Linked DNA regions of Homo sapiens: regions 1, 3, 4 and 5 are each linked to region 2. A link means that fine-mapping ties the variant in region 2 to the expression of a gene that starts in the linked region. Tissue or cell type: whole blood. Region 2 holds a variant in brackets; each other region holds the start of a gene. Each region is shown on its reference strand, or each on the opposite one. Region 1 holds the start of C1orf198 (chromosome 1 open reading frame 198). Region 2 has its middle 12 kb from the start of ZNF367. Region 3 holds the start of C1orf116 (chromosome 1 open reading frame 116). Region 4 holds the start of MGAT4B (alpha-1,3-mannosyl-glycoprotein 4-beta-N-acetylglucosaminyltransferase B). Region 5 holds the start of TNNC2 (troponin C2, fast skeletal type).

Region 1 (4,671 bases), not on the chromosome of region 2:
CACCGTGCCCGGCCGGAGTTTGGCTATTTTTATTCCCTCCAGGAGTAGATAAAGATATATGTAAAAAAAAAAGTTTCTAATTTCAGCCAAGTCATCTGTTAGAGCCATACTTTAATTCCCCTGAGTTTCTTCTTATAATCTGGAAGAATTTTTCTTTCAGTTAGCCCCTTATCATCCAGATCATGGACTTTACATACTTTGGCCAATGTCCCTGAATTATCTCACGCTTTTATTATCTTGAAAACTTCTTTGACAATCAATTATTGCCAGACCCAAAACACCTCATGGGGTTGTGGTTTTTTTTTTTTTGAAAGCAACAATTATTTCCACAACTGCTTTGAAAACAGCATGAGACCAAGTTTCTAAGGGTACGGACAGCTTCTTATGTGAATATCAAAGCAAGCCTGGGGATGTTAATTAATTTCAAGAATATATCTTTAAACATTACCTATATTATTAAACAAGGATTAGAGGAGAGAAATCAGTGGGATTCAGGTCAATGTATTGAGCTTCTCTAGCATCAACTCAAACAGAAGATCATACTCCAAAAAACTGTCCTTAAACTTCCGGTCTCATAAATAATCCGCCACTTACTGTGGAGACTATATTTGGTGGTGCTTGCCTTTCCCTGCTTCAATATATTATGTTGTGAACATTGTTGATAATAATGTCTTTAACTGTAGAGCCTGCCACATTCATGACATTCCAAAAATATTCTGAGGATTTCTGGGCCGGAAGATGAGGCCATCTCACATTTAAAATAGGACTTTGCAAGTTATTTCTACTTTTGTGTTCAGAACTATCCAGGCAAAGACCCTGGATAACAGCTGAAATGCTGGTTTTTGTTTTTGTTTTTTTATTTTACGAGTGGACACAATTCTCACCTGAGTCCTGTTAGTCTTGTTAAAATCAGTCAGATGGAGAGAGGGGCTTGGGGGAAGTGGGGGCTCGCTATAATTTTAATTTTGTGGTCTGTCTGGGACACACCTCAAAATTACAAACCCTGGCCCCCTACCTGTTGGGATGTCGCCTCTGAGTCTGAAAACTTTCTGCTCCTCTTTGGTTTGTTTGCAAACGTCGAACTGCCAAGAGTTCTGAGCTCCTTGGGTTGGGGAAAGGCACCTGGGCCACCGGGTACTTCATGCACCCACCTGGCCCCGAGGGGCGGCGGGAGCTGACTTTCCTTGAGCACCAGATGCCCCGAACCGGTCCAGCCTTCCAGGTCGCCCTCCAGCCTCCGGGCTGCCCTGCGCCCCCGGCTATCTGCAGCTCACCGCGCCAGGCCCCGGGCCCAGCGTCCTGGACGGGCCCAGAGAAAGCAGAGAAGGTGTGGCTCGTCCCAGAAAGGGACAGAAGGAAAGGAGTAAAAACAGAAGCCAGGCAGCCAGCGGCTTGGCCTGAAATGCTGGGGCTTTCTTAGGCTCACTGGAGGTTGAAAAAAGTTTCCTTTGTCAAGCAGTGGCCACGTGGCGCTATGGCGGTCACTACCGGGAATTAACCACGGCCACCCTCTCAGAGCGCCGGGCGCGGACTCAGGGACACGCCGGCTACCACCTGAGCCGGGTAAGGGGAGCCCGAAACCTGCGGGCACCGCGGTAATCCACTATGGAGGCGTAAAGGGGGACTCGTGGGGTCCGCGAGGGGGTGGCGGGGGGGGGCCCGGAGGGAGGAGCTCCCGGGGAGGGGGCCACGGAGGGCCGGGGTCCCGGGGCTTGGGGAGCTGGGTTGGCTTGGAGACCCGGGTACGCGGCGGTGCAGGGCGGGGTTCCCGGAGGGGGCGGGGCTCCGGGTGGCGCGGGGCGGGGCGAGGGCGGGCACAGCGAGGGGCGGGGCGCGGGCCGGGAGCGGCGGGCAGGCCGGGCATGGCGTCCATGGCGGCGGCGATCGCGGCTTCGCGCTCGGCGGTCATGAGCGGGAACCGGCCTCTGGACGACCGGGAGCGAAAGCGCTTCACTTACTTCTCGTCGCTGAGCCCCATGGCCAGGAAGATCATGCAGGACAAGGAGAAGATCCGCGAGAAGTACGGGCCCGAGTGGGCGCGGCTGCCGCCCGCGCAGCAGGACGAGATCATCGACCGGTGCCTGGTGGGGCCGCGCGCCCCGGCGCCCCGAGACCCCGGGGACTCGGAGGAGCTCACGCGCTTCCCCGGCTTGCGCGGGCCCACGGGCCAGAAGGTGGTGCGCTTCGGGGACGAGGTAGGTGCGGGCCTGGCCGCGGACCCTCTTCCCCTCCCGGCGCCCCGAGGCGCCCCGGCCCGGTGGGCACCTGCCGGCGTGAGGCCGCCCCAGCTGGTAGGGGCTGGAAAAGAAAAGGCAGGAATGGCAGTGGGTGGGAGGGGAGCCCCAGAGCCGAAGTTCGGGGGGTGGGGGCTCCGCTGGGGGAGTTGGTTAAGAGATCGCCGAGAGGTGGGTCGTTAAAGAACCTCCATCTAGACCTGATCCGCCGGCTCGCACGGACTCCAGAGACTTCTCCCGGAGCTGTCGTAAGCGAGGCTGACCAAAGTGGAAACAACAAGCAATTTTAAACCAGACAAGCCTGGGTTTTAATCCAGCTCTGCTACTTACTACCTGTATGGCGGTGGGTCAATTAACTTCTTAGAGCCTCAGTTTCCACTGTGTAAAACGGGGGTAATAACGCCACCCCGTGCCTGCCCGTGAAGGGACTGAGCAAATGATATATACTAACATGAATACTTGTGATGAGATGTATGGGGAAAGTAAAATTGCCAAGCCAGGTAACAAGGAAGAAAAGGTGTCTTCCAAGATAAGGAGGGAAACCCATCCATCACCCTAAGATGTTTTCCAAGTGAGCACAATGCCCAGCGTATGTTTTAAGGGTGAGCATGGTGGCCCTGTTTTCCACCAAAAAACTAAGGGACGATAAGTTTAAATGAGCTCCAGTAAGTCTTGGCCACATAACAGGGCATGTTTAGGTCTCAGATCTAGACACTGTCCAGACTGCTAGAGGGACAGTCATTTGTGAAGGTAGAAACGCTGAATCTGTTCCAGAAAAAGCTCAGGGATGACCCACACTTAGTCACAAACGCCTGAATCTTCTGTAGGGTTCAGAAACTTGGTCTTCTTTTTCTTAGAAATGTGTTTAACCGAAGCCTGTTTGGTGCCATTAGAATTTGCACTGTGACTCTTTGGCGTTTCAAACTCAACTTTTGCCGTGAGGAGCAAAGTCAAGCTGAGCAAAGAGTGTAGGAATGAAATCGCTCGCTGTTAAGGCTGTTTCTTGGGCTAGAGGAAGGAGAAGCTGGGAGAGATTTTTTCCGAGGAAGTTGTGGATTGTGGATGGAATTCAAGTTAAGGAGGTTTAGATCAGATTTTCAGGCTTGGGTGTGCTGAGACATTTATTAATACGAAGTGTTCATGGTCATAAACCCACTTTAATGTGAGGGAAAAGTGAAATGACTGAAGGATGCTGCCAGTGTTTCTTTATTCTGATGGAATCAAAAGGAAATTCTCTACTGGACTTCAAATTCTGATGGCTTTGCCAGGAAAAACAAGGGTGTGGTAAACTGGGGAGGGGAAAATATAGGTTTTAAAATGTATTCCTAGAGCTGAAACATTTTCAGTGGGAAAATAGGCGTATTTATAAAGACTTGTGTGCAGTGTTTGCGCCCAGATTTGGGGGATGAAAAAGCAGGCAGCACTCCTTTGGAAGAGTCACGAATAAATATGACAGGAAGTAAACTTCTAAGTACTTACAAATGTTGGAGAGTGACTGTCATTTTCCCTTAGCTTGGTGTCCAGCTAAGAATATCTACACGCCTACTCATGATGAAAAAGCCCATGTCATAGAAGAGCCCAGTATTACTGACAAGGAAGAATGTGGCCAAGTTAATTTTTTATTCTCATTCCTCATCTGGTGCCAGACTGAGCCGTTTCTGAATTTGTAAACTCAATGTGATTTAAAAGCAAGTGGAACTGTGCCGTGCTGTGGTGCCTGTATGTCCTTCCAGGAGTAACTCAGGAGAATTGAATCTCAGCTTTGCAAAACCAGCTGAGAGCATGTTCTGAAATGCCTCTGACCAGCCTCAGCTCAGACAGCAGAGGGGCAGATAGACCCTGAATTTTAACAGAGGTACATAGGAACATGGCCCAGGGTACATTTTTGCCTGCAGTGTCTGCGTAGGTTAATAGCAGTAGGGAATTTAAATTCCCCTGGACTGCGCCAGAGGTAGGCACCAAAGTGGAGTCAGTTGTCTCATTGTTGTCCCCAGGAGATCATTCATGGAGGAGGGCCAGCTCCTGGGCACAGGGATGATGGATAAGGACAGGATAGGCTGCTGAACAGAGGTACCCCCAAATAGGTGACCCCAAGTTTGTCCTAAAGGACTGTAAACTAGATAGAGTGGGGCCCAATGTCTCTTCCCACTTGATCAGTCTTCTGATGTGGTCCTGGGGCCTCCACAGCCCTTTCCGCTGCCCTGAAGGACACTGCCTATTTCTTTGAATGGTATCCTCTCCCCCATTGCCAGTAATGTTTTTCTATCTCACATAGCAACGTTTTAAGTCAGAGCATGCAAATACAGCCTCCAAATGTGGTGATCATCTTCTAGACATTTCTTGTGTATTGCAGGAACAAATAGAAATTGATTATATGATGCTGATCACAGATCTTGGTGGTTTTGAATGTGGTCAGGGGCTCAGTTCACTCACTGAA
Region 2 (4,671 bases):
CAGGGAATTCGGCAAGAGCTCTGGAGCCATCTTTATCTAAACTCCCAGACAAGCTTTCCATGTAGTTGCGGGGGATGGTGAACAGTATGCACACAAAATACGTGCACATCTTGGCCCGGCACAGTGGCTCATGCCTGTAATCCCAGCACTTTTGGAGGCCAAGGTAGACAGATCTCTTGAGGTCAGGAGTTCAAGACCAGCCTGGCTAACATGGTGAAGCCTTTAGTAGAAGTCTCTACTAAAAATACAAAATATTATCTGGACGTGGTGGCGCACACCTGTAATCCCAGCTACTCAGGAGGCTGAGGCAGGAGAATGGCTTGAATCCAAGAGGCAAAGGTTGCAGTGAGCCGAGCTCATGCCTTGCACTTCAGCTTGGGTGACAGAGCAAGACTCCATCTCAAAAAAAAAAAAATTTGCACATGTGTCTAATGACACTACATTAGATTCTAAAATGTACCTCAGATAAAAATGTAATTCTTGAGGATTGGCTGACTCAAACTGTATCTTGGCATGCTAATTTATACCAAAAGGGACAGATTGAACCATAGACCCTATGTACTAGACACCTACCAATTAGAGACTACCCTTTTGTGTGTGTATGTGTGTGTATCCCCTCTGGGTCTTATTCTTTTGTCCATATTGCTTTTTAAAAATTATATAGGCCAGGCACTGTGGCTCAAGCCTGTAATCCTAGAACTTTGGGAGGCTGAGGCAGGCGGATCACCTGAGGTCAGGAGTTCAAGACCAGCCTGGCTGGCCGGGCATGGTGGCTCACACCTGTAATCCCAGCACTTTGGGAGGCTGAGGCGGGCAGATCACGAGGTCAGGAGATCGAGACCATCCTGGCTAATACGGTGAAACCCTGTCTCTACTAAAACTACTAAAACCCCGTTTCTACTAAAAATACAAAAATTTAGCCAGGTGTGGTGGTGGGCGCCTGTAGTCCCAGCTACCCGGGAGGCTGAGGCGGGAGAATGGCGTGAACCCGGGAGGCGGAGCTTGCAGTAAGCCGAGATTGCACCACTGCAGTCCAGCCTGGGAGACAGAGCAAGACTCCTCTCAAAAAAAAAAAAAAAAAAAAAAAACAAAAAAAAAAACAGTCGGGCGCGGTGCCTCACGACTGTAATCCCAGCACTTTTGGAGGCCAAGACAGGCGGATCACGATCAAGACCATCCTGCTAACACGGTGAAACCCCGTCTCTACTAAAAATACAAAAAATTAGCCAGGCCTGGTGGTGGGCGCCTGTAGTCCCAGCTACTCGGGAGGCTGAGGCAGGAGAATGGCATGAACCCGGGAGGCAGAGCTGGCAGTGAGCCGAGATTGAGCCACTGCACTCCAGCCTGGGCGACAGAGCGAGACTCCGTCTCGAAAAAAGAAAAAAGATAATATTATTACCTCCTTAAAAGCAGAGAAAGCCTTTGGAAAAAAATCCACATACATTCGTCATAAAGCACTCAGGAAGATAGGAATTAAAAAATACGTTCTTAACATAATTGAATGTTATTCCTAAAATTAGTTTCTTATTTAATGGGGATACACTATAGGGAATTCTAGCATTGGAAATAAGGCAAGGATGTTCACTATCCACTACTTTTCAACATTGTATTGGAGGTGTTAACTACTATGATTAGATGACAGAAATCAATTACAGGTTGAGCATCCCTAACCTGAAAATCCAAACTTGAAAATGCTCCAAAATCTGAAACTTTTCGAGTGCTCACATGATGCCAGAAATGGAACATTCCACACCTGACCTCATGTGATAGGTTGCAGTCAAAATGCAGTTGCACAACATGGTTTATTCAGCATCCCCAACAGAAAAAAAGACCCTCCCGGCCCCTTTCAGCTGTGGTATATCTTTTCTGTGCATGCCCAGATTACCCCCCAACAAGCGTGCCTGTAAAGGGTAATAAAATTGTACATATGCAGCTGGATGCACCAATGGCAGGTTCCCCACAATGCCCCATATAGGGCCAAGACCTATGTGCATTACTCACTGTG[T/G]TTTTTTTTTTTTTTGCTTATTCTCTGCTCTGTGTTTAAAGATATTGTTGGAAATGCCAAAAAGATACCCCTATGGGTAACAGTGATAAGAAAAAAAAGAAGCACTTATGTTTATCTATAGCACAGAAAGTCATGCTGTTGGAAAAATTGGATGGCGGTGGAAGTGTGAAATGCCTTACAGAACAGTATGGTGTTGGAATGACCACCATATGTGACCTGAAGAAACAGATGGATAAACTGTTGAACTTCTGTGCTAAAAGTGATGGATAGAAGTTAATGAAAAATAGAAAAACACTGCAAAGCTGAAAATGAAGATCTTGATCATGTATTGAAAGAGTGCATCCATTAGCATTGCAGTGAGCATATGCCACTTAATGGCCTGCTTATCATGAGACAAGCAAAGATCTATCACGATGAACTGAATATTGAAGGGAACTGTGAATATTCAGCAGGCTAGGTGCAGATTTAAGAGAAGACACAGCATTAAATTTTTTTAAAGATTCGTGGTGATCATGAAGCAGCAGAGAAATTAACTAGTGTGCCAAGGTCATTGCTGATGAAAATCTGACAGCAGAACAAGTCTATAATGCTGATGAAACATTATTGTTTTGCTGTTATTACCCCAGAAATACATTGACTACAGCTGGTGAGACAGCCCCTACAGGAATTAGGGATGCCAAGGACAGAATAACTATGTTGCAATGTGCTCATGCAGCAGGCACACATAAATGTAAACTTACTGTGACAGGCAGGTGAAAAAGCTTGCTGTTTTCAAGGAGTGAATTTTTTACCAGTCCATTGTTCTGCTAACAAAAAGGCAGGGATCATCAGGGACAGCTTTTCTAATTGTTTTCACAAACATTTTGTACTAGTGGCATGTGCTCACTGCAAAGAAACTAAACTGAATGAGGACTGTAAGATTTTGTTATTCCTTGATACCGATTTTGCTCATTCCCCAGCTGAAATTTTCATCAAAAATGTTTGTGTCGGCTGGGTGCGGTGGCTCACGCCTGTAATCCCAGCACTTTGGGAGGCCAAGGCAGGTGGATCGCCTGAGGTCAGGAGTTCGAGACCAGCCTGGCCAACATGGTGAAACCCCATCTCTACTAAAAATACAAAAAAATTAGCTGGGCGTGGTGGCACATGCCTGTAGTCTCAGCTACCTGGGAGGCTGAGGCAGGAGAATCGCTTGAACCCAGGAGGTGGAGGTTGCAGTGAGCCGAGATCGCTCCACTGCACTCCGGCTTGGGCGACAGAGCATGACTCCGTCTCAAAAAAAAAAAAATATATATATATATATATGTGTGTGTGTGTGTGTATATATATACACATATATACATATATACATACATATATACATATATACATACATATATACACATATATACATACATATACATATATACACACATATACATACATATACATATATACATATATACACACACATACATATATACATATATACATATATACACATATATACATATATACATATATACACATATATACACACATATACATACATATACATATATACGTATATACACATATATACATATATACATATATACGTATATATACATATATACATATATACGTATATATACATATATACATATATACGTATATATACATATATACATATATATACATATATACATATATATACATATATACATATATACATATATACGTATATGCATATATATACATATATACATATATATACATATATATACATATATACACATATATACACAATATACATACATATACATATATACACATATACATATATATACATATATACACATATACATATGTACATATATACATATATACATATGTACATATATACATATATACATATATACATATATATACATATATATATGTAGTCTGTGTCAGAGCTGGAAGAAGTGGATATTCAAGACGTTTTTAATGAGCCTTGTTCCTTCACTAACTGAGGGTGAAATATCTGAGTTGGTTCTGAACCAAGGTGATCGTGATAACAGTGACAGTGAAGATGATGATGTTAACACTATAGAAAAAGCACCTATAGAGGACCTGGTGAAAATGTATGATGGGCTTATTGAAAACTAGGGCAGTGTGCATTCACAACCAAACAAGAAATCATGTCAATTCATAAAAATCAAGAGAGACGTCTAAGACAGAAACTGGCCGGGGTGATGGCTCATGCCTGCAATCCCAGCACTTTGGGAAGCCGAGGCGGGTGGATCACCTGAGGCTGGGAGTTCGAGACCAGTCTGACCAACATGGTGAGACCCCGTCTCTACTAAAAATACAAAATTAGACAGGCGTGGTGGCACATGCCTGTAATCCTAGCTACTCAGGAGGCTGAGGCAGGAGAATTGCTTGAACCTGGGAGGTGGAGGTTGCAGTGAGCCAAGATCGCGCCATTGCACTCCAGCCAGGGCAACAAGAGTGAAATTCCATTTCAAAAAAAAAAAAAAAAGACAGAAACTGTTGTTAATGAGGCAGATGATGCTGAATGAAACATTTTCAAAAGCCATCCAGCAGATGCCTCCTCACCCCTATGGGACCCACTTCCTGATCCTTTAACTGCTACTGATGTTTTTTTTTTTCACTGAAAAAAAGAAGATACAGTGTACAGCCTTTCAATCAAAAGGTAGTATCATAGG
Region 3 (4,671 bases), not on the chromosome of region 2:
AACAAAGCAAAAACAATATGAATTCCAGGGAAAACATTTAAGTACATGGAGAATGGAAAAAAGAAAATTTGAAATAGTGATTTATTTCAGCTAGGACATATATGTGTTTGCAGGGAGGGGAGGCTCAAGGCTTGTAAGTAACTTCGACTGTGATGTTTATGTTTTATTTCCTGAACTGGATGTTAGGTACGGTTATGTTTGTTATGTCAGTGTATCTGAAATATTTCATAATTTACAAAAAGAAAAAGTTTTTGAGAGGAAAGGGAGGAAGGGAAAGATGATTTTTGTCTATGTCCCTGCTTCTACCTGGTAAAAGATAGGGGTTCCTCCTAGTTATCCTAATTTTATTATAACTGAAAAACTGTGTCTGTTCACAAATAAGACTGTTGCCTACTATCCTCTTGGAAGTTAATTCTCATAAGTCAATTCATTTTTTTAGCAAATGTTCAAATCACACACCTATGGAGCTGGATCAACTTCATTGACTTCATCCATGGGTGTGACTCTGGTTGCACTGAACTGCTGATTTGGAGATGCCCTTCCTGTTTTGTTAGTATTATGACATCATATATGTTTGAATGACACACCAGGGAAAGAGGTCATAGCCCGAAGTGCTCATTCAGCTGTGATATCCATAGGCTGCTGATAGGGTACTGGGTTATCCCAGGCTTCCTCCAACCTCCTTCCTATCCATTAGTCCTGCTCCACTTCATCTTTACCTTGGCCCCAGGATCACTGCCCTTTTTATTTCCTATCCAACCATGATCACAGAAAGAGAAAAGATGAAAGCCATGTGTCGTCTTGTTATAAAACATATTAATAGCTTTAAGTAGGAAATGAAACAGAAAAGGACGAATCTAATAGCTAGAATTACACTTGCAAATTATCTGTGTATTTCATGATTCCCACTTGAGATTCCTTCCAAAATAGAGGCGGATTGGCATTATGCTGATTCATAGCAACCTTGATGTTATACTGCCTGAATTAAAATCTCTGCCCTGCCTCTTCCTAGCTACATGGCCTTGAAAAAGATTTTTAACCTCCCTGTAAAATTTAGATATTAACAAATGCCTACTTTTTTAAGTTAAAGACTAAATTAAAAGATACATGAAAATGCTCAGCACAATACCTAGCAAATAGCAAGAGCTTAATACATTTTGGCAATTATTGTGTACATTGATTTTAAATTTTCTCCCTGACCTTTTAATGCTAGTAAGTGGAATACCTCAAATCCTGATACCTATCAAGGATAATCTACCTGTAGGAAAAACCAGCTTCCAGGCAAAAATCATATCTGTTAAGAGTGGTCTCTGTACCTGGTGGGAAATTTCTTCCCAAAAATAGTAGATTCTTCTACCTACTCTCTTCTCCCTACGAATGCCAAGTATCAGTCCATGAAAGGAGACAAGAGTTGCTAAACTGGTTGGTAGTTTGTTTTGTTTTTATTTCATAATATGTATTGCCACCTTCCATGAACAGCCAAAAGAGAGCAGAGGACCAAATGACAGAGTGCATGCTCTCTCCTTTCAAGCTGTCCAGTCACTCTTTCATCAGGACACGGACCTCTTAGGGGATGAATGGTTTTATTTCCCCCAGAAATAAATTAGGCCAAGGAGATTGTTGGCAAGCACTGGGGCGAGACTGGCCCAACTACAGCATCCCTAGCCTGGGGACACCTTCTTCAGTGGACATGAATGGAATTGCTAGGCTTATGAGCTAGGATTAGGCTTGGGGAAGAAAGTGACTTTCAACATCTAGAAAAGCTAGCAGCAAAACTGAACACAAATGAGTTTAGCCTAGAGAATTCAGGGGAAAACTAAGCTCCAAGCGGAAGAAGGTAGTTCTAGATGAAAAACCTGTTTCACATAGACCTATGGAAAAGCACACTGCCCAGAGGACTGTCTGCGTTCCTTTATATCAACATTAAATATATATACTATCTCTGCCTACTCCCTCCCTGCCACCTGTCCTTCCAGTCTCAGCCCAAACCGGCTCCTCCTCCTTCCAGCCCTCCTTTTTTAAAGAGCTCTTTATTAGCTCTAAACAGGAAAGGGGAGGGTAGGAGATGATTGGCTAAGAGGGAACAGCACCACCCTGCTCATTCCCCTCCCATTCCCTCCCTGAGGAAACAGCTGGAATGAGAGGTAGGGAGGGGAGGCTAGGATTGGCTGAGTCAGTGGCAGGGTGGGGGCCAGGCAGCACAGATGAAGCATTTACCTATCTAGGTAAGTCAGGAGGAGCTCAAAAGGAGAAGAAAACAGTAGGAGGCAGGGGAAGCAGCCTCTGTCTCCATCTCTGCCCTTTGAAACAAAAGGGTATTTCTTTTCTCTCTTCAGCCCCCAACCCAGTGGAGGTGAGTTAATCACTAACCAACTATTGCTTATCCTATAGCAATAGGAAGGGGTTTCATGGGAAATCAGAGCTACAGGGGAGGGGAGGTGTCCCTCTATACCCCAGCTAGGGAGATTTCCTCTCTGTTCCTCAATTCTCTGAGTCCATTCTGGGATCAGATCAGGTTGGTAGCAACTTGAGATTGTAGTGTTTTTGTGGAGACTGGGGCTGGGAGGCACCTTCTTTTTCATTTATCCCTTTAGGTTGGATAGGCATATTGTGCAAACAACAAGAAAAAGAAAATAGATTTGTTTTGGAAATTTCCATCTCTGAACAATTGAAATTGAGTTGTGATTTTAGAAAAGAACAGTTGAAATAGAGGGAGTCAAAATGGGGGAGAGTATCTTGGTTTTCCATAGCGACTGTAACAGGAAATTCTCCCGTGGCTTTACCAACTCGGTGTCGATCTTTATTTAAATAATGGGTGCAATGTGTGTGTGTGTTTGATCATGCTCATGTGATAATGGAGCTCTCTGTGTACAGGTGTGTTAGGCATGAGCTGTACTAGGTTGTTTGTAAAGGGATATGAGGTTGGGGCACATGGAGAAAACTTCAGCTACCAGCTCATCTTTGGAAAACCCATGGATAATCTAGCTGCAAAGTCAAGTTTATTTGGATTCTACTCAATTAACTTTCTGACTCAGCCTGTTAATAGACACAGAGACTGGCAAACAGAAAGCTACCTGGCTGTGCCGAGCCTCACCCACATGAATATTTCGTGGCTGCATGTCAAGTCTAGTTAGAGTTCCAAGTGGGGCTCAAGCCAAGGTAGTGTGGCAGAGTCCACAGACAGAGAAGCAGACCAGGGTGGTGGCTTTGTTTGTTTTCCTGCAGGTGTCCCAGTTGGCAGTTTGTGTGGCAGATTTACCTGCAGAAGGAAGGCAGATGTAGGAGTCGAGTCAGAGTAGCAAGTTGCCTCTCCATTATCCATCTTGGGGGGTTTAACCCTTTGGTCCCTAACTTTGACTCTTTTCCTCCTGCTGCAGAGAAGAGGGAAGTGGGAAGCCCTCAGTGCCAGGCTCAAGGGCCTGGCACACGCAGCCCTGAGTGAATATATGGGTTTTCCAGTCCTGGCAACTGGAGATTTAGGCTTGAGCTCACCTCACACCACAGAGCCAACACCCCACACTCACAGACTGAGGGCTGCCCTAGATGGTGAATTTAGGAATAAAGACCACTGGCAGTGTCTAACAAAGCTCTGCTATGCAGAGGGTATTTCTACCTGCTCCTTCCCTCAAACACACTGGTGAAAGGGAAGATGATAATGTTGCCTAAACACACACAGAAACTTGCCCATGTGTTCATGGAGACAGATATGCAAACTGTGCAAGTTTTAGTCATTCTGCTATTTTTCTTAGGATATTTTCCAGCCCAAGGCACATTTCTGGGTAGTCAACAAGAAGCAAAGACACCTGGATTGAAAGACAGGAAACCTCTTTGACTAGTAGGCAGAGAGGCAAAGCTCTTGGAGGACATGTGGGGGGTTCGTGGGAGGAGGATGAGAGGGACCTGGGTCTGATTAGAAGGTACAGACAAGCCAACCTGGAATGGAGCTGGAGCCCTCTCCCCACCCCACCATCTCCAGATGCCAGAACTTGAACTGTTCTTTATTTCCTCTCCTCCAAGGCTTGGCAGTATTTAGTATTTTAGTCAGTGGTGTAGTTAATATTTAATGTGTCTTTGGATGGGTGGCCCTGACTATAGGTGCTGCATATTTCTTAACCCATTCCCTCCTCCCGTTAAGTTCCCAAAGAGGTCAAGGGTTAAGATACCAAACTCTCACCTTGAGTGTTTTGTTTGTTTCTCAGTCTTCTTATCAGGGTTTCGATGGCTGCCCTGAAAGAGCCCCAAGGTTCAAGGTTGTGAAGTCGGTGAAAGGAAATGCAGCTTTCACCATTAAGATTCTTTAGGTCAGAAAACTAGGTATGGAGATGAGGTGACAGCGCCTCGCTCAGCTTTGGTTTCAGGTTCAGATTCCTCTGTGCAGGGATTATGTAATCCCTAAAGACATGATCTTCCTTGGCAGTTGGTGTCATTTCTTTACTGTAGAAATATCTGCTGTTGGGGCAATACACTGGTCTGGAAGTATAAAGCTGAAGCAGATGATTTGCAGGGTTTAAGGTATGAAGTAGAAGGAGAAGGGGGTTTTAAGGCTTTTAGTATTTTAGTCAGGGGTGGCTAGTAACCATTCTCGGGGGCATGCCCCTCTTGCATCCAGATAGTCCCTGAAATGCCCTGTGGAGGGCTGCCCTGTATATGCATGTATAGGTCATTCCCTGT
Region 4 (4,671 bases), not on the chromosome of region 2:
GTTTCACCGTGTTAGCCAGGATGGTCTCGATCTCCTGACCTCGTGATTCGCCTGCCTCGGCCTCACAAAGTGCTGGGATTACAGGCATGAGCCACCGCGCCCGGCCTCTGGGTGACTAAGTTTTAACATTAAGTAACTCATTAACAATTTCTAAGGCCCTTTATGTCACAACCTAAGTGAAAAGCCATTATCCTTTGCCACAAATAGAAGACACCTGTGAAAACACGACAGTTTCCTCTAGAAGGCTCCTATAAGTCCCAGTCTCTAGTTCGGAAAGTTCCAGGAGCACTGAGTGGGGAGCCCTCTCCTTTAACAGGGGGCCTCAGGATCCAGCCCACTTCAACCTCTGGCTCGGCCACCCCCTTCTTGGCATCAATCTCTCTGTCCAGACCCCTCGAAGCTCCCGATTCCACTCAGCCCCAGGTGTGGGCCGGGGCTGAACTAGGAAGACAAAGCCGCATTCAATCTCAGTCTGAGTCCAGCCCCTCGGGCCTCCCCCGGGCGGGTGGGGCAGAGGTCCCTGCAGCCTCCACCAGGAACCGGGCCCCTAGGTCTGGGAGGTCCAAGCCGGCAGCGGGCCAGGCGCTGCCCAAAGCCTGCCCAGAGGCGGCGCTGGGCCAGTCCCTTTATAATTTGCGCCCTTCCTGGTTCCACAGAGGATTGAGGAACGCCTGAAATTAGAACGCAAATGGGCCGTGCGTGGTGGCTCACGCCTGTAATCCCAGCACTTTGTGAGGCCGAGGCGGGCGGATCACAAGGTCAGGAGTTCGAGACCAGCCTGGCCAATACGGTGAAACCTCGTGTCTACTAAAAATACAAAAATTAGCCAGGTGTGGTGGCGGCCGCCTGTAGTCCCAGCTACTCGGGAGGCTGGGGCAGGGGAATCGCTTGAACCCGGGAGGCGGAGGGTGCAGTGAGCCGAGATTGCGCCACTGCACTGCAGCCTGGGCAACAGAGCGAGACTCCGTCTCAAAAACAAACAAACAAAAAACAACAAAAAACAACAACAACAAAAAAACAATGAAGGCGTGGGCCCCCATCAATATCGGGCTGGGCTGGGCGGGGCGAGGTGGCCCCTACACCACCGGGGGCAGGGCCCGTTGCTCCCGTTAGCGGCGCTCTCGGGCCGCCCCTGCCCCGGGAAGCCGGTACGGTTCTGGGCTGGTCACTGCTCTGCATCCACGAGCATCGGCCCTGATACCGCCTAGAAAGGCCCATCGTTCCCGCCTCCCGGGCCCCTGCGCGCCTCCGTCCAGAGGCCCAGAGGAAGCTCCTGAGCGGGGAAGCGCCCTGGGCGGCAGCGAAGGCAGCGGTCGCTCCCGGCTTCAACCGCCCAGTCCCCCGCGCCACCCAGAGCCCCTCACGCCCGGGAAAGAGCCCCGAGAACGTGCGAATGGGGTCGGGGTCCGCGCGCGGAGGAGATGTTGCTGAGAAGGGTACCGGGGTCCCGGAGCGCCGCCCCCGCCGCCCGCCCCCCGCCCCGGCTGCGGTCGACCTGCACTCCCACTCCAGCCTTACCTGAGGCCGACTCGCACGAGCCCACGCGGGGCTGCGGGAGCCGATCGGGATCCCGGCCGCCGGCCCCCACCCCACCCCCTCGCGGCGCCGGCGACGGCGGTGCTGCGGCCCCTTTAAATCCGGGCCGCCCCGCCCTGCGCCGTCGACTCCGCGGCGGCCCCAGATCCAGGCCCCAGATCCAGGCCGGGCCGCGGCTCTCGCCGCCCAGCCCAGCCCAGCCCGGCCCGGCCCGGCCCTGCCGCGGAGGCGAGGCCGCCAGTGTCCCGCGCCCCTGATATCTGCAGTGAGCCTGATACCTGCCTCTGCCCTTCTGAGCCTGTTCCTCTTCCCTGAGTACAGGGCACAAAGCTTGCGCCCTGAGGGGCGGCCGGCGCGCTCCCTGGCCCGGTCCCCGCCCGGCCCCGGGCCCCCCGCCCCTCCCCGACCCGGGGCCGGGGCCCCTGCCGCCGCCGCCGCCGCCTTCCGACCCCTGCGCCCCGGCCCCGGTCCCCCGGGCCATGCAGCCTCGGCCCCGCGGGCGCCCGCCGCGCACCCGAGGAGATGAGGCTCCGCAATGGCACCTTCCTGACGCTGCTGCTCTTCTGCCTGTGCGCCTTCCTCTCGCTGTCCTGGTACGCGGCACTCAGCGGCCAGAAAGGTGAGCGCGACCCCCGCCCGGCCCGCACCTGGCGCACCTGGGCGTCGGCGGCGGGAGCGGGCCCGGCGGTGGCCGCGGAAGGCGGCCGGAAGCCGACGCAGGCGCCCCTTCCCCGCCCGGGCGGCGCGAGGACGCCCCTCCCACCCTCCCCCACTTGTTTGCTGCTGGAGCCGCGGCGTTCTCCTCGGGCCCGGGCCGCGCCCGTGGGTGCTCCGGACCGGACTCCGCGGGCGCAGCTGTCCCGACGCTGAGCTGGGGACCCGTGGGGTTCTCGGAGAGGGGCAGAGACCCAAGGTCACAGAGGTCCCGGAACGCCAGCCACAGCCACCTGGGCAGGAGCTGGGGCGGCGTGAGGGACACAGGCGCGAGGGCACCCCCCCACCCTGCTGCCTGCTGCCCCGCGCCGGCCTGGGCGACCCCGGCGTGACACCCGGTCCTGGGACTCCCTTCGGCGCCCAGAACGCGTCGGCAGCATCCGGCCTGTGGGAGGGAGGGAGGGAGGGAGGGAGGCGTCCTGAGGCAGCCCGGCCCCTGCTGCCCTGCGCTCCCGTGCGGCCCCAGCCCGTCCTCCGCACCCCGAGCTTCCCGGGCTGGCCCCCGCCCTCCGCGTGCGCCCAGCGCTCTTGCAGGCGGAGGGTGCGGGCCGATCCCCCCGCGCCGCCCCGCTGGCCGGTCTTGGCGATGGTGGGGCCGAGTAGGGCCTGAGCCCTCGGAGGCGCTCTTCCCCCGGCCTGGAGGTTCCGGGAGAGTGGCCTCCTGCCTGCCTGCCTGCTGGAGGCCTAAGCGGGCTGAGTCCAGCTGCCCCTCGGCCTCCCCGCCACCTGCTTCCCTGTTTCCCTGTCCCGGAGCGCCATCCCAGAGAGGCTGCGGAGGAGGGCGAGGGAACCTGGACCCTTCCGGACCCTCCGAGCTCCATCTACCCACGCCGAGCTCTGCCAGCACGCCCGCCTGCCGCACTTGTTCTGCCAGAGCAGAGGCCTGGGCTGGCCTTGGGGCTCCAGGGCCAGAGAGGCATCACCCAGGGACTCTGCGGGGAGCCTGCCTGACACGGGAGGGATGGCTGGGCAGAGGCCGTGCTGGCGGGGTATATTATCAAGGGCAGGCATGGCTGGGGCAGAATTCTCTGTAGGTAGGGTGTGTCACCTGGGGAAGGACATTCTGGGTCCTTGGCAGGGTGACTATAAAAGCACACTGGCATGAAGGCCTAGGTGGGGCCATATCTGAAGGGCTGGGGCATGCTCTTTGAGTCGTGGGTAGAGCCGTGAGCCCTTGCCCTTTGTCCTGAGCCAGTGTGTGCCTCCCGCAGCAGCCACATGCCCGCGGATTGATGTCAGGAGCCACCTCTGCAAGCCTGGCTTACCACAGGGAGCCAGGCTCCAGGACAGCAGAGTGAGGGAGAGGCACTGGCTCCATGGCACCCACTGTGTCTGGGGGGCATCCAGGAGGCTGGCTCTCTGAGGGCCTGGGGAACAGGAGAGCAAAGAAGGGGAGCACTTAGATTCACGAGCCCAGCCCCTAGGGGATAGAAGCCTAAGGATCCTGTGAGGTATGAGTATGGGGTGACATAGGCCTCCCTTGTCGAGGGGCTGTCACTGTTTCTGTGGTGACCCAGTAGTACCAGGTCTTTGGAGGCCTCAAGAGAAGCTGGGAATCTGGGCTCTTATGTGAACCCATCTCGTTGTCACATGTAGAAAATCTGTCTTAAACCCCTGGTGAAACCAGACGTAGCCAGTCGGAGGCCAGATTGGAACCTGGCCTCCACTTTGCAGCCAGCGGGGGTCCAGGAACTTGAGGGAAGGACCCAGGAAGTGGAATCTGCAGGGAAGGAAGGAGGTGGGCAGGGAACCAGAGAGGAAGGGCAGCAGGTGTGGGCATCATCCTGGAAACGCAAGGTCAAGCCCAGGACGGCCTCTTAGACCAACGCAAAATGGACCCTGGAGAAGGGTTTGGGGCCCAATTTCCTATCTAGCCCGTGCAGCAGCTCTGCCAGCGCTCAAACTGTGGCCCTCGGTCAAGCACCTGCTGAGGATCTGCCCAGGGAGGCAGACCCTTGGGGGCAGCCCGGGGTCTCAGCCATGCAGCGCTCCCAGCCTTCAGGCTGTCCGCCTCCCCAGGCCTGGACTTCAGCAATGATGGACACCCTTACTCCTAGGAGGTTGCAGGGTCTGGAGAGGAGGCAGACACCTGCCACACACATGCATGGTGACAGCAGACCGTTAACGGGCCTGATATCTGCCTATGCCCCTCTGAGCCTGTCCCTTTTCCCTGAGTACAAGGCACAAAGGTTGTGCCCCAGCTTGGCTCTTTAATCTTTCCCCAACCAAGAGGGAAGCAGGGGGAACTGTGGTTTGTGGGCCCCAGGATGTCCTAATGACTCGCCTCCAGGGGAGGGTGACACAGCCTCCAGGCCTCATTGCTGCTGCTCTTAACAACGTGGTCCTGAGGCAAGAAAGTGTGGCAGGGGCTCCCAGGCTGGTCCCTCTCCTCACCTGAGCTGCCTCCCCAGCTCCCGAGGG
Region 5 (4,671 bases), not on the chromosome of region 2:
CTCGATCTCCTGACCTCGTGATCCGCCCATCTCAGCCTCCCAAAGTGGTGGGATTACAGGCCTGAGCCACCGTGCCCGGTCGATGAAACCTTGTCTCTACAAAAAGTAAAAAATTTGCCGGGTGTGGTAGCTCACACCTGTAATCCCAGTGCTTTGGGAGGCTGAGGTGGGCGGATCACCTGAGGTTGGGAGTTTGAGACCAGCTTGACCAACATGGAGAAACCCTGTCTCTACTAAAAATACAAAATTAGCCGGGCATGGTGGCTCATGCCTGTAATTCCGGCTACTCGGGAGGCTGAGGCAGGAGAATTGCTTGAACCCAAGAGGCGGAGGTTGTGGTGAGCCGAGATTGCACCATTGTACTCCAGCCTGGGCAACAAGAGCAAAACTCTGTCTCAAAAAAAAAAAAAAAAAAAAACCAAAAACAAAAATTAGCTGGGCGTAGTGGTATGTGCCTGTAATCCTAGCTACTCAGAAGGCTGAGGCATGAGAATCACTTGAACCTAGGAGGCGGAGGGTGCAGTGAGCCGAGATTGTGCCACTGCATTCCAGCCTGGGTGACAGAGTGAGAGTCTGTCTCAAAAACAAAACCCCAAAAAACCAAAAAACAATAAAAACTAAATTGGAATCCCATGGGTCTCCCTCACCCTTTGGCACCCTGCCTGCCTGGGGGAGGCCTTATTTAGCTTGGCCCAGCCCTGCTGAGCTTTCCTTGGGAATGTCTATATATAGGGGAAGGGGGCAGCCCAGTTGCCACTGTCCATCTGCATTCCTTGGTGTCCAGCCCCCCTTTCCTGGCCCCAGAGCCTGCTATCGGTTGTCTTGGTGCTCTTTCTGTCCACGTAGCCACTGTCTACAAGCCTTGCCTACTCCCCAGTGCCCAGCCTGCACCTTGTGGATTCTCAGGTTGGGCTCCCTCTGGACTTGGTCTGCCCACCCCTTTACTCCCCAGATGACCAGATTTCTTCACTGAGCTCTAGGAAGGGGCCAGCTGTCCTTTTACCACTTAAAGAACCTTCCCCTGCCTACTCCTTACTTCAAAAAAAGTGAATCCAAACACCCTTTCCCTGGAGAAGGTAACTTTCAGAGAAGGATCTTTGCTTTCAATGATTATTTCTCCTCCAAATGCACATCCTCCTCTCCTCCATCCCTCCATACATTTTTCCATCTGGACAGGTGCCCCAAGGACTGTCTGTCCCAACTTCCCTCCAGTCAGGATTAATAATAAGAATCATCAACATGGGTGGGCATGGTGCCTCATGACTGTAATTCTAGCACTTTGGGAAACCAAGGTGGAAGGATCCCCTGAGCCTAGGAGTTCGAGACCAGCCTGGGCAACATGGTGAAACCCCATCTCTATAAAAATACAAAAAAAAAAAAAGCCAGGGGTGGTGGTGCACCTCTAGTCCCAGCTACTCGGGAGGCTGAAGTGGGAGGATCACTTGAGCCCAGGAGATAGAGGCTGCAGTGAGCTATAATAGCACCACTGCACATCAGCCTTGGTGACAGAGTGAGTATAGACCTTTATAATTTACAAAGCTCTGCAGTCAAGTGGGGATAATCGTTGCTACCTCATAGGAGGAGCACTAGATGAGATCATGTTAAAATGCTTAGCACAGTGTGTGGCACGTCATGGGGTTCAGTAAACAGTGGCCTACCTGTCACTTTCTCCTCCTATCCCCTGCCCCTTACCATGGTTCAAAGACGGGACATTCCTCTTGCCAAGCACCAACGCTGTGTACCCAGCACAAGCTAGGTGACTTATACCCGGGTTCCCATTTACCATGGTCTCTCTGTGAGGGAGACCCCACAGACAGGTCCAATCCCACAGATGAAGAAATGGCTCAGAGAGGCACTGCTACCGGCCCAAGGTCACACAACTCGCAGAGGCTGGCCTTGGATCTTGGGTTTTGGACTTCAAGGCTTGTACTCTCCCCATTTTACCATGCTGCCTCACCCTTTACTACTCTGATCATCCTTACCATCTTGGAGCCAGTGTGCTTCCTCGGTCGGGGGGACTCCAAGGCAGTGGAACAGGGCAGGCCTTCCTCACAAGAATCTAGGACGTCAAGGCCTGCCACCTGCTTGGAGGCTTAAATTTCTCTGCAAGGGCCCTTGGCTAAATTAGGTAATGGGTTCAGACTGTGGGAGGGGTGGGACTCGCTGACCCCAGGATCTGATTGGGCAGGGTCTCCAGTGCTGGGGAGCAGGGAGGTGGGAGGGGAGGGTGCCCCTACAAATCCCGGGGGCTAGAGCAGGCCAGGTCATCTTTGGGTGGTGGAGTGCAAAGGAGGCGACCTGCAACAGAGGAGTCCCGGTCACCAGCAACCATGGTAAGGACAAGAGGGGACTTTGTGCCTTTACTCACGGGAGCACTCTGGACCCCTTTCAGGCCAGGCCTGGGTGCTCTGTGGGGCAGTAACTTGGATGTTTGAGGTTGGAGCATGGAGGTTCCTGGAACCCAGGTGTCTTGGAGGAAGGCCTTTGACTTTTCTTGAAAGGGGAGGGCTGGGATATTCCAGAGATTGATCCTTAAGGCTTGCTGACTGCCTACTCACTTCTGGAAACTTCCAGCAGTGTCATTCATAGACCTGTGAAGAGCTCTTAGCTTGTTTCCTTCACACAGTGGGGACTCTGAGGGGTCAGAGTGAGTCACCCAGCAGGCCAGTGGCAGGGGTGAGCCAGAAGCCTGGCCAAACCCTCCTATCATCATGGAGAGAAGAAAGCCTCCTCCAGAAGACGGGAGGCCGGCAGGGCGTGGGGCCTGCTCAGATGCAGGGCTCTGGGAGCCCTGAGGATGATGGGAAGGGGCAGAAGATGACAGACCAGAGTTAGAGAGACTCCGCTCTCCTAGAGAGGGCTTCTGATTTGGAGCTGTTGTTTTGGTCTGAGATCCCCCTCCCCACTTCACTTCAAGGAGTAACTAGATCCCAGAGGCCAGCTGCTGTTGCCCATGCCTGACTAAAAATAGCCTGCCCTCCTGGCATAGGGAAAGAGGAGGAGAGGAAGGAGGGGGAGAAGGAGGAGCACTGGTGGCCAGCTGGCTGAAGAGCTCCTTGGAAGCCTCACCCTGTCCTCACTGCCAGCCTCAATCCAAAGCCTCTGACCCAGATGGCCTGGCTTGGATATGACGTGGAAACCCCTGCAGAAATCTCACTTTCATGTCAAGGCCTCCATCACATTCGGCCCCCCATGAGGGGCCTTTTCTCCAATGACTGAATCCTAAGAAGGAAGCTGACAGCCTCCGACTCTGCCAGTTCTCTGAGGGGCGGGATGATGTGTCTTTTATCTCTTCTTTGTGGTTCCAGTGCCTGATCTGTGGCCTGACATGCAGCAAGTACTCAATAACTTTGTGTTGCATTATTATTTATTTGAGAACAAACATTTTATTGAGCAACTATTAAAGTACCGGGCACCATTAGGAGCTGCAGAAAACTGGAAAATAGTGCTGGAATGGTGCTAGCCCTTTACAAAGCCCTTTCACACCCCTGATATCTCATCCCTGAAAAGCTACAGAGAAAAGATGAAGGCACGCTAATTGACGTGCCTAAGGTCACTGGGGGGTGGGGGGGGTTCCCGACTTGGCCTTCAATTGACAAGTGAGAAGGCCTTGGGCTTAACTTGTTGTCTCCTCTCTTTTGCTCAAAACTGGGGTCACAGGCTGCGCGCGGTGGCTCACGCCTGTAATCCCATCACTTTGGGAAGCTGAGGCAGGCAGATCGCCTAAGGTAGGGGGTTCGAGACCAGCCTGACCAACATGGAGAAACCTCATCTCTACTAAAAATACAAAATTAGCCGGGCGTTGTGGTGCATGCCTGTAATCCCAGCTACTCGGGAGGCTGAGGGAGAAGAATCGCTTGAACCCCGGAGGTGGGGGTTGCGGTTGTGGCGAGCTGAGATCGTGCCATTACACTGCAGCCTAGGCAACAAGAGCAAAACTCCGTCTCAAAACAAAACAAAACAAACAAACAAAAAAAACTGGGGTCAGGCCGGGCATGGTGGCTCACGCCTGTAATCCCAGCACTTTGGGAAGCCGAGGTGGGCGGATCACCTGATGTGAGGAGTTCAAGACCAGCCTGGCCAACATGGTAAAACCTCGTCTCTACTAAAAATACAAAAATTAGCTGGGCGTGTTGGCGCATGCCTGTAATCCCAGCTACTCGAGAGGCTGAGGGAGGAGAATCGCTTGAACCCAGGAGGTGGAGGTTGCAGTGAGCCGAGATCACGCCATTGCACTCCAGCCTGGGCGACAGGGCGAGACTGTCACAAAAACAAAAAGCAAAAACAAAAACTGGGGTCAGAAGCTGGGCACAGTGGCTCAAGCCTGTAATCCTAGCACTTTGGGAGGCCGAGGTGGCAGGATCACTTGAACCCAGGAGTTCAAAACCAGCCTGGGTAATATAGTGGGACCCCATCTCTACAAAAAATTTTAAAAATTAGGCGTGGTGTATGCTATAGTCCCAGCTACTCAGGAGGCTGAAGTGGGACGATTGCTTGAGCCCAGGAGGTTGAGGCTGCAGTGAGCTATGATCACACTACTGCACTCCAGCATGTGTGACAGAACGAGACAAAACAAAACTGTGATTGGGTGCTGTGCGGGCACACAATTATGTGACAAGTTTGAAGTTGTTCTTCTGGAGAACCAAGGGCGCTGACAGAGTGGGGGTTGGG

The links.
Region 1: C1orf198 starts here. The variant in region 2 is fine-mapped to the expression of C1orf198 in whole blood (TOPMed, PIP above 0.99).
Region 3: C1orf116 starts here. The variant in region 2 is fine-mapped to the expression of C1orf116 in whole blood (TOPMed, PIP above 0.99).
Region 4: it holds the start of MGAT4B, and the variant in region 2 is fine-mapped to the expression of MGAT4B in whole blood (TOPMed, PIP 0.96).
Region 5: it holds the start of TNNC2, and the variant in region 2 is fine-mapped to the expression of TNNC2 in whole blood (TOPMed, PIP 0.95).

What each region holds. Positions count from the first base shown.
Region 1 is chr1:230,865,704-230,870,374 of GRCh38, reverse strand. C1orf198 (chromosome 1 open reading frame 198) reads left to right here and starts at 1,854. Exons shown (of 4, transcript NM_032800.3): 1 at 1,854-2,195. The coding sequence starts at 1,863. RefSeq lists an enhancer at 1,291-1,882 and a silencer at 1,706-1,925.
Region 2 is chr9:96,427,972-96,432,642 of GRCh38, reverse strand. No RefSeq gene overlaps it. Among named protein-coding and RNA genes, the nearest start is that of ZNF367, 12 kb to the right of the region's middle. The variant T/G (reference allele first, on the strand shown) is at 2,006.
Region 3 is chr1:207,030,261-207,034,931 of GRCh38, reverse strand. It overlaps C1orf116 (chromosome 1 open reading frame 116), which reads left to right and starts at 2,176. Exons shown (of 4, transcript NM_023938.6): 1 at 2,176-2,353. It also overlaps a transcript of PFKFB2 not described here.
Region 4 is chr5:179,803,971-179,808,641 of GRCh38, reverse strand. It overlaps MGAT4B (alpha-1,3-mannosyl-glycoprotein 4-beta-N-acetylglucosaminyltransferase B), which reads left to right and starts at 1,776. Exons shown (of 15, transcript NM_014275.5): 1 at 1,776-2,155. The coding sequence starts at 2,059. It also overlaps a transcript of SQSTM1 not described here. RefSeq lists silencers at 1,032-1,201, 1,372-1,931, 2,162-2,231, 2,362-2,491, 2,502-2,921 and an enhancer at 1,959-2,620.
Region 5 is chr20:45,824,908-45,829,578 of GRCh38, reverse strand. It overlaps TNNC2 (troponin C2, fast skeletal type), which reads left to right and starts at 2,267. Exons shown (of 6, transcript NM_003279.3): 1 at 2,267-2,333. The coding sequence starts at 2,331.